Linked DNA regions of Homo sapiens. The protein of the gene in region 2 interacts with the protein of the main gene of each other region in a pairwise test. Each region holds a gene or a part of one and is shown on either strand. Other genes may lie near its edges. The genes, in order: SSX4, PAX9 and ZNF440.

What was found.
Region 1: the proteins of PAX9 (region 2) and SSX4 interact in a two-hybrid assay, tested with the Homo sapiens proteins (one large-scale study listed by BioGRID).
Region 3: the proteins of PAX9 (region 2) and ZNF440 interact in a two-hybrid assay, tested with the Homo sapiens proteins (one large-scale study listed by BioGRID and IntAct).

What each region holds. Positions count from the first base shown.
Region 1 is NC_000023.11:48,386,435-48,390,177, forward strand, and holds part of SSX4 (protein SSX4), read left to right. Parts: intron 1-876; coding exon 877-926; intron 927-2,911; coding exon 2,912-3,047; intron 3,048-3,743. UniProt on the Homo sapiens protein: Could act as a modulator of transcription.
Region 2 is NC_000014.9:36,671,784-36,675,526, forward strand, and holds part of PAX9 (paired box protein Pax-9), read left to right. Parts: intron 1-3,743. UniProt on the Homo sapiens protein: Transcription factor required for normal development of thymus, parathyroid glands, ultimobranchial bodies, teeth, skeletal elements of skull and larynx as well as distal limbs.
Region 3 is NC_000019.10:11,833,495-11,835,716, reverse strand, and holds the end of ZNF440 (zinc finger protein 440), read right to left. Parts: 3' UTR 501-2,222; downstream 1-500. UniProt on the Homo sapiens protein: May be involved in transcriptional regulation.

The DNA.
Region 1 (3,743 bases), on a different chromosome or scaffold from region 2:
TATGTAATAAGCGTCGCTGTTTCTCTGTATTTTATCAAAACCAAATAGTCCTCACATTCCCCAACAACCCCAATTCTCCGTGATGAGCTTGGAAGAGAGTTTGAAAGAGTGATCCCTCATCCAGCACACAGAGAGCTTTCCCACTTCTCAGTGAGCAGAGATAACATAGGGTGAAAAAAAGACAAGTTTCGCGTAGAGATCTTTGTGCATTTCAGGAATATAAAGGGGACATATGTGTTTACTTGCTCTTCTGCTCTGAGAACACAGTTACAAGACAAGGTCAGAATGTCCAGACTGTCTCCCATAGACCTATTACTTCCCAACTAAACAGGCCAGATTCTACGATCTCCCACAGTCACTATAAGAGGTCTGAAAATCCAGTGCTTGAGTATCTGCCAAGTTTTTGACATTAAATGAGTGCCAAATATTTATACTGAAAATATTTCAGAGCCACTGGACTAAATCATCGATGGTTCATCACACAGTTAACAGCTTAATTGACATACCATAAGATTCACCCATTTGAAGTGTACAGTGATTTTTAGTTGTTGCACATCTTGAGTGATTACAGTTTAGATTCCCAACCAATCAATTTAACTATTTGGGAAAAAGTAAAAGATATGTAATGGAAAAAGATGAGACTGTGATGGGGTTTAATACCCATGTGATAAACCACGAGATGGAAAATTCTGAATTGATGCCACAGATAAATGCACCAACCATGACTAAACATAATTCAGAAGCAAATCTCAAATAACTCCTCAACAATGAGTGGACTCACAACCTCTGCTGCAGAATGCCCTCATGCGACAGAAGTCTCTCTAGAGTTTGGAAATCTTTACCAACAAAGAAAAATTCTGATGTATTCTCTTTCAGTTGAACGTCCTCAGATGACTTTCGGCAGCCTCCAGAGAATCTTCCCGAAGGTGAGTGTCTCTCAAATCTAAAGGACCAGAGAACGTTTGTCCCTGCACGGATGCGAACACTGATAAGAGTGGGAGAATATCAAACATGCCCTCACTGCCTCCTTCTCCCCATGTCTATCACAACAACTTATGTGGCACCGACGGCTTGCTAATATTAACAGTTGTGATCCTTAATACTTCTTTGGTTTTCATAGTGATGCCAGATTACTATTTTAAGCAGTTCACATGGGTTAATTTATTTAATCCTTAAGAAGACCTCTATGACGATGTTTCTATTACTATCTCCAAATACTATCGAGCCACACACTTCAATTGTCACCCATATAAAAGACATGTAACTTGGTGCAAATCTTCTAAGTTCTCTGAGATCCAGACTCCTGGTCCATGAAATGGAAGTAAAGAATCATAGTTCATGTTTTAGATCGTAGTTATCAGCAACATAATAATAAAATGAGGCTATCGGGGTACAGAGATGTTAAAGAATTTTCCTGAGGCACAGTGGCAGTGGTAGTCTAATCCAGAGCTCCAAGCCATTTAAAGCTCATTCACGTTTGCATTTGTTTATGAAGTTCAGATGTTGCTCACTAGGGCTTCACCCCATAGGGCCTCCTGGTGCTTCCATTGAGACACCCACTCTCGCAACAGGAAGGACCAGCTGGCCTCTGCTCTGTTACCGGGGCCACTCACATGGCTTAGGAATCGCTTTGACTGTTGGCCCCTCCCTACTGTGAGCTCCTTGATGGCCTTGTGTGCACCTGGGGCATCCGGGAAGCCCCCGTCCCAGCCCAGGGGATCCCTCGAAGGCCCCTGAATGAGTGATCCCACAACTGCAGATCCAACTCTGGTTTGGAGGGTAAAGGGATCTGGGAGTTGGGTTGCCAGTGTGGAGACCAAATTCAAAGAAGGATCATGAAAAGTATTAGTTTTTTATTATTACTACATTTAAAGAGTGTTTACAAGCTCAGAGAGCACTTTCTTGTAGCCTATTTTACATGTACTGTTGACTATTTCGTAAGTGAGGAAGCTGAATAAAAAGTAGCTTAAGGGCTGGGCGCAGTGTCTCACGACTGTAATCCCAGCACTTTGGGAGGCTGAGGTGGGTGGATCACGAGGTGAAGAGATGGAGACCATCCTGCCCAACATGGTGAAACTTTGTCTCTACTAAAAATAGAAAACTTAACGGTGCGTGTTAGAGCCTACCTGTAGTCCCAGCTACTCTGGAGGCTGAGGCAGGAGAATGGTTGAACCTGGGAGATGGAGGTTACAGTGAGCTGAGATCGCGCCACTGCACTCAAGCCTGGCAACAGAGCAAGACTCCGTGTCAAAAAAAAAAAAAAAAAAGGAAAAAGAAGTAGCTTAAGGTCGTTGGTCAGTGACACATCCCAATGCAACCAGAGTTGGTATGGGTACCACCTCACTTAATTCCACATTCAATGTTGGCGCCTCGGTAGGGTAGTATGCCATGTCTGGTACTGCTTTCTTTGCTGCCTAGTTTAATTTCAGCAAACCATTTCTTTACCTCTCCTGTCCCTGTATTCATCTCCCCACACCATCTTTCCCAGCAGTGTTTTATCGCCTCTCTATGTTTTTACATTTACTCTCCCAGCAGCTGTCTACAAGCTTATATGGGATCCCTTGTATTTTATAGAAGCTCTTTCTTTTCTAGACCTTGTGAATTCTTAGAATGCTATTCTCCAAATCTTCTGTATACCAAACTCTCAATTAAATGGAGATTTTTGCTGTTTGCAAGAATGTGAGTCTTAAAAGAGTGTGAAGATAAGCATTCTAGCCCTGGAAAGCCCATTCGTTTAGGCCATTCCTTTCCCTTCTAACCTCCCAGGTTTCTCCTAATTTAGGCCTGTGTAACTCTCCCAGTCTTGTTGAGAGCATTGAATAAGCTAATGCACGTGAAGACCCTTTGTAAGCTCTAAAGCACTGTAGAAATGTCACTGATACTGTTTATCTGCGACCTTCACATTGTAAAGATCATGCCCAAGAAGCCAGCAGAGGAAGAAAATGGTTTGAAGGAAGTGCCAGAGGCATCTGGCCCACAAAATGATGGGAAACAGCTGTGCCCCCCGGGAAATCCAAGTACCTTGGAGAAGATTAACAAGACATCTGGTAAGAGGAAAGAATTCGGGAACAACCCCTCTGGCTTCCCTGGCTGTGTTCAGGTGCGTGGACTGGGTGTGTGGCATGGACCCCAGACAAGCCAGGGTCCAGGCTGGGCTGAGGAGCTCGCCTAGCTCCAGATGAGATGTTAGACATGACTTCCAGAGACACAGACTGGAGTTGTCATCCATATAAAAAAAACCACGTGACGTGGGGAAAGTCTTCCAAATTTCCTCAGCTCCAGGTTCCTAGTCCATAAGATGGAAATAAAGAATCATAGTTCATAAATTGTTTGGAGACATTAAATGTAATCTAGAAGGCCTGATGACATGAAAGGTGCTCAAGCAATTCTATCTGTGATAACCTGGGATCATATCTTACTCAGCTCAATGCCTGTTACCCAATACAGGTGTGCTTCAGAGATATTGCAGGTTCGGTTCCAGACCACTGCAATAAAGTGAGTCACACACATTTTTTTTTTGTCTTGCAGTGCATAAAAACATTACATTTACATTATACTGCAGTCTACTAAGTGTGCAATAGCATTAAGTCTGAAAATGCACATACCTTTATTTTAAAATAATTCATCGATAAAAAATGCTAACAATCTTCTGAGCCTTCAGTGAGTCACACTCTTTTTGCTGGTGGAGGGTCTTGCCTCGGTGTTGATGGCTGCTGGCTGATCAAGGTGGTGGTTGCTGAAGA
Region 2 (3,743 bases):
TCTTCTTGTGATAACCTTAACTAGAAGAACTACATTGCATCTTATATATTTTTTTCTAGACTATTTCCGTTAATGTCAGTGTGATGAAGTTGGTCTTTTCCTAAAAGTATTAAAACAAAGCAGTAACTTACTTTTTCTAGGGTATGCAATTTAGTCTATTTTGCTTTGTATTAGTAAATCTCCTTCTCAAATTTAGGTAGAAGATAGTTTGCTATAGAGAGCACCCTTGCACAGTTCTTTCAGGGGAAAGAATTCTCATGCCTTTCATGGAAGATCCACATGAGAAAGGAGTTGATGGATTGAAGTCTTATTTATGGAATCTTTAGGTAAAGTCATTTTCAAAAATGAGATTTCCATTACATGCCCATTGCTGGGGTTTCATTTGGAAAATTTGTTTACTCTTCCCTGGGGATTCCGTATGTTGGTTGATTTATAAATCATATTTACAATCCAATTAAATAGAGTAATTTAGCATGTTTGCTCCCACTATATTTATAGTGTAGATTTGGTAGTCTCTACTCAGCCTAACTAGCTTTTCAGATTAATTACATGCCCTTCACTGAAAACATTAAACCGATTTGGGACGTTTAAGTCATGTACTCTTTTACTGGAAAGAATAAACAAACATCAATGCTACCTGTAGTTGTTTTCCTTTGCGGTGGAAAATTTTACTTTTTCAGTGATTGCTTCATAAATAACAATTACTTGACCCAGTAGAGATTTATATCTTTTACTAATGTTATGTGTCAAAATTAATAGTGAGAAAATTGATGTGTTTATTGAGTCACTAAAATGAATAAATAATGAAGGTGGCAGGAGGCAGGTAAATTTTAAAGCACATTTACTTGCTCCTTTTTTTTCTAAATTTATAAATCTGAGCTTCAAAAGTAAAAAGTAAAATTAAGACAAAACTCTCCAGACCCCCAAGCTAGGGTCATAATTTAACCTGAGAGAAAACTAAGGGCTATTTTTATACTGTTTAAGTTTAAAGATTTATGTTTGTTTTTTTTTTTAAGCAAACGTTTTAGCCTCTCCTTGCCTTTTTCTTTTTTCTTTCTTTCTTTCTTCCTTTTTTTTTTTTTTTTTTTTTTTTTTTTTTGAGATGAAGTCTCACTCTTGTTGCCCAGGCTGGAGTGCAATGATGCGATCTCGGCTCACTGCAACTTCCGACTCCCGGGTTCAAGCAATTTTCCTGCCTCAGACTCCCAAGTAGCTGGGATTACAGGCACCTGCCACCACACCCGGCTAATTTTTGCGTTTTTAGTAGAGACGGGGTTTCACTATGTTGGCCAGGCTGGTCTTGAACTCCTGACCTCAGGCAATCCGCCCGCCTCAGCCTGCCAAAGTGCTGGGATTACAGGCGTGAGCCACCGTGCCCGGCCGCCTTTTTCTATGAGATGAAATCAACCATCTCCGAGCTTCTCTTCCTACCCTGTCTTTCTGCAGTACAAAGGGATTGCATCACTAAAATGATACTAAATAAATATTGTGGATTTAAGAGAACTTTGAAATATTTAGTACTAAGAATAATGACATAAAGCAAGTTTGTGCATTAAGTATGAGAAGTTGGACAAACATGGAAAAATTTGCTCATTTTTTTACACTTGATAAATGAATGTAATCATGGAATAAATAAGGCACTAGAAGTTAATACAGGCCTAAATCCAATGTCCTGCCTGCCCCTAAATTCCAGGAACATTATCTAAGATAAAAGTTCAATGCAGCATGTCTCTGAGGGCCATCTTCCAAGTGGGTCCATGTAAGGGGACCATAGACATTGCAACAAAACAACTGAAGAGTCCAAGTAAATGGGGCAGATCAATGAGCAAGAGTTCCAAGGGCAAAGGTGTAAGAAAAGGGAAGATGACTAAGCAAGGATTTCAGAGAGAACTGTAATTTTGAATGATAGATAAAATACAAAGAAAAAAGAATGGGTAGGAAAAATTTAGCTGTGATGAAAAATAGAACTCGCCAACAGTTCTGTTCTGCTAACTAGAACATTGTTTCTGCCATGTATAATATTAAATTTTTTAACTTTATGTCCCTATATGATGTTGGCCAAAGATTTTTATTATTTTAGAAGTAATTTTAATGTTAGCATTCTTATTTCATTATTCTTAGTTCACATTGGCATCAGTAGTATAAAACATTAGTCAATGCTGGAAATGAAAATATTAGTTAACACCACATACAGATGTGAACACCTTTCCATAACTGAATTGGATTTATTTCTTTCCAAACTCATTTATCATAGATTATTGGGACAATTCTAAATAAAAATGATTAAAACTATAATCTCTATGCAAAACTAGATTTTTTCCCCTGTAATTTGATAGTTCTCTATCTTGATACCCATCTCCTGAGAGCCTTAAAGTGTGTCTCCTTTGAGACATAATCAGCCATTCTCAAAAAGTGGAAGAAACTATTCTTTTTTTAGAAGGGATCTGACAATGAGAATCATGTTCTAGGAGAGAAAAGAATTTGTTACCAGATGTTATCTCAAAAGATGCACTAGTTTTAAATTAAATTGCATCTATCTTTTAAGTGTTCAGGAAAAACAGTATGATATGCTACAGAGGACCCTGCATTGGGCAGGGGTGATAAATTTTTTTAACACATGGCCACTGGCTTGCCAATTGGTTGAGGGTACATGGCTAAACCTCTTAATCTATATCCTTGTATAAAAAGAGGATAAGATTTCATTTGTATTCAACAGTTATGTGCGGTAGTTTCTTGATTTAAAAAATGCAGCAGCATCATTCTCTGGGACCCTTAAAATACACTTTAATTTCAGTTGAACATTGTGTTGTATTTGTGACACACTATCTTGTAATTATGATAAACTCAATCATTTATAATGAACTATATAATTCATTAATACTCATTACTCAGTAAAATATGTTGGATATTTCTTGGTGCCTGGGACATAGGACACACTTAAGAAACTTTAGCTTCCTTTCTCTTTCCCTATTTTCAAAGAACCAACATTGAAAAACACAACATGAGGTGTTTGTTCTTACAGAGCATAGACACAAGGCTAACCCCTCTAATATTTTTCTTTTTTTGTCAGAAATGCATGAGTAATGTTGTCATACCCACGTATGTATTCTATTCCATGTACATATTCATTTACTCTGCATTGAGAAAATAGTTTTTGAGACCGCACCACTGCATTCTCATAGATGTAGAAGTGAAAACAATAGCCCAAATAAATTAAATTAGAAAGTAATTCCTGTGTTGCAATTGAACGGGAAAAAGTACCTAGCTAACATACATCTGATTAACTTAATTCTAAGGATTAAATCAATTTTCCTCATAAAATTCTAGTATTTACATCGTATTTTCACTAGGAAATATATTGAAATGGTAGTTCATTCATGTAACTATCAGGACACAGCATCTACACTTTATTTCTAAAGAGTATAAAAATTGAGGGGAAAAAATTAGACTACTTGAAGAAGGATGCCCAGTGTTCATGCCAGAATCAGGATTAAAAATCAGGGTGTTTTTAGTGTTGTTAATAGTAACGATACCAACAATAATTCACTGGATGCCAAGACAGCACTGGTTTCTCGGCAGGCTCGCCTGCCGGGACTGCTGCATTGTGTTTGCAAACAAAGATTTTAATTTCTAAATTCACTTCAAGAGATTTATCCACGTGGCTTTTAAAAACTCACATCACAGGACCCAAAAACTTTGCAAGCAAAATTTCCAGTTTCAAAACCAGGCATATGCAGTTCTTT
Region 3 (2,222 bases), on a different chromosome or scaffold from region 2:
AGGCTGTTGACAAGTTAACCTCAGCAGCACATTATCAGAGAAAGTTAGCCTCAGCAGCACATTATCAGCAGCACATTATCAGAGAAATATAAGACAGGCTTGTATTTAGACAATTTACACAAATTTATTAGCCTCCTATGACTCAGTAAAGCAATTTGAAAAAATATAGCTTTATAAGGCATAAACAAATTTATATGTTTTAACTAAGGTACTTTCTGGTAAACAGTGCCTGTACATTTTAGGAAATATTTTAGTCTTTAGAGAATAAGTAAGGCAAAAACAGGTCCAGGAGTTTACAGATGCCCTCCCCTCACCACAAGGCCAAGTCTTTTTTTTTTTTTTTTTTTTTTTGAGATGGAGTCTTGCTCTGTCGTCCAGGTTGGAGTGCAATGGCGCGATCTTGGCTCACTGCAAGCTCCACCTCACAGGTTCACACCATTCTCCTGCCTCAGCCTCCCAAGTAGCTGGGACTGCAGGAGCCTGAGACCACGCCTCACTAATTTTTTGTATTTTTTAGTAGAGACTGGGTTTCACTGTGTTGGCCAGGATGGTCTCCATTTCCTGACCTAGTGATCCGCCCGCCTCGGCCTCCCAAAGTGCTGGGATTATAGGCGTGAGCCACCGCACTCGGCCCTAAGGCCAAGTCTTTTTTTGTGTTTTTTAAGACAGAGTTTCACTCTTGTTGCCCAGGCTGGAGTACAATGGTGCAACCTCGGCTCACTGCAACCTCTGCTTCCTATATTCAAGCAATTCTCCTATGTCAGCCTCCTGAATAGCTAGGATTACAGGAGCATGCCACCACGCCCTGCTAACTTTTGTATTTTTAGTAGAGACGGGGTTTGATCATATTGGTCAGAATGGTCTCTAACTCCTGACCTCGGCCTCCCAAAGTGCTGGGATTACAGGCGTGAGCCACCATGCCCAGCCAAGGCCAAGTCTTTTATTGTTGGAGAGACACGTGTCACATACCAGGCATATGAGACGATGCTCCTCAGTGACCATGATGAATCAGGACAAAAACAAGGGCATTTTGTAACTATATTTTTAAATGTGATAGAGGAAAACGTATTTCAAATCATAAACATGACCAAAATTTTTCTCTTCTTACTAATGTGACTTGTAATTCTCATACATCTCACAGTCATTTATGGCTTTTGGTCATATTTATCACTATGGTATATTACACCCTTGCTGACAGCAGGTATGGCACTGCTGGTTTTGGGGAAGAAGGCACTCAGAGGTGCATGAGATAACTATTGGTATTATGACTGAATGAAAAATTAGGGTTGCAGCTGGGCATGATGGTTCATGTCTGTAATCCCAGCATTTTGGGAGGCCGAGGTGGGTAAATCATGAGGTCTGGAGTTTGAGACCAGCCTAGCCAATATGGTGAAACCCCGTCTCTACTAAAAAATACAAAAAATTAGCCTGGCATGGTGGCGCATGCCTGTAGTCCCAGCTACTCAGGAGACTGAGGCAGGAGAATTGCTTGAACCCTGGAGGCAGAGGTTGCAGTGACCTGAGATCATGCCACTGCACTCCAGCCTGGGTGACAGAGTGAGATTCTTTCTGGGGGAAAAAAAAAAAGAAAGAAAAATTAAGGTTGAGATAAAAATGTAAGTACAGAAGCATGAAAAGTAAAATTTTCGAATAAAAAGATGTCTGGCATTTTATCCACATGGTTATACTGACTCACAATGTCCAAATAATAACAATTTAACAGTATAAGGCTGATCTAATACATGACACCAATGGGATATTATAGCTTCTTATTTAAAAAGAATATCATTTGTTAGTATACAGTTATTATAAACAGTTAATTGTTTACATTCATTATCTGTATTCAAAGAATCTTGTCAGGTCTGAACGCTTTCCCATACTGCTTACATTCATAGGGTTTTTCTCCAGTGTGAGTCCTTCCATGCATTTGAAGGTGCGAGGCTGATCTGAAGGCTTTCCCACATTGCTTATATTCATAGGGCTTCTCTCCAGTGTGAGTCCTTTCATGATATTGAAGGGAACTAGAAGAAATGAAGGCTTTCCCACTTGGCATACACTCATAGGGTTTCTCTCCCATGTGAGTCCTTTCATGATATTGAAAAGAAGTGGAAGAAATAAAGGCTTTTGCACATTGCTTACATTGATAGGGTTTCTCCCTAGTGTGTTCTTTCATGATATTGAAAAGAACTGGAAGAAGTGAAAGCTTTGCCACATTGCTTGCA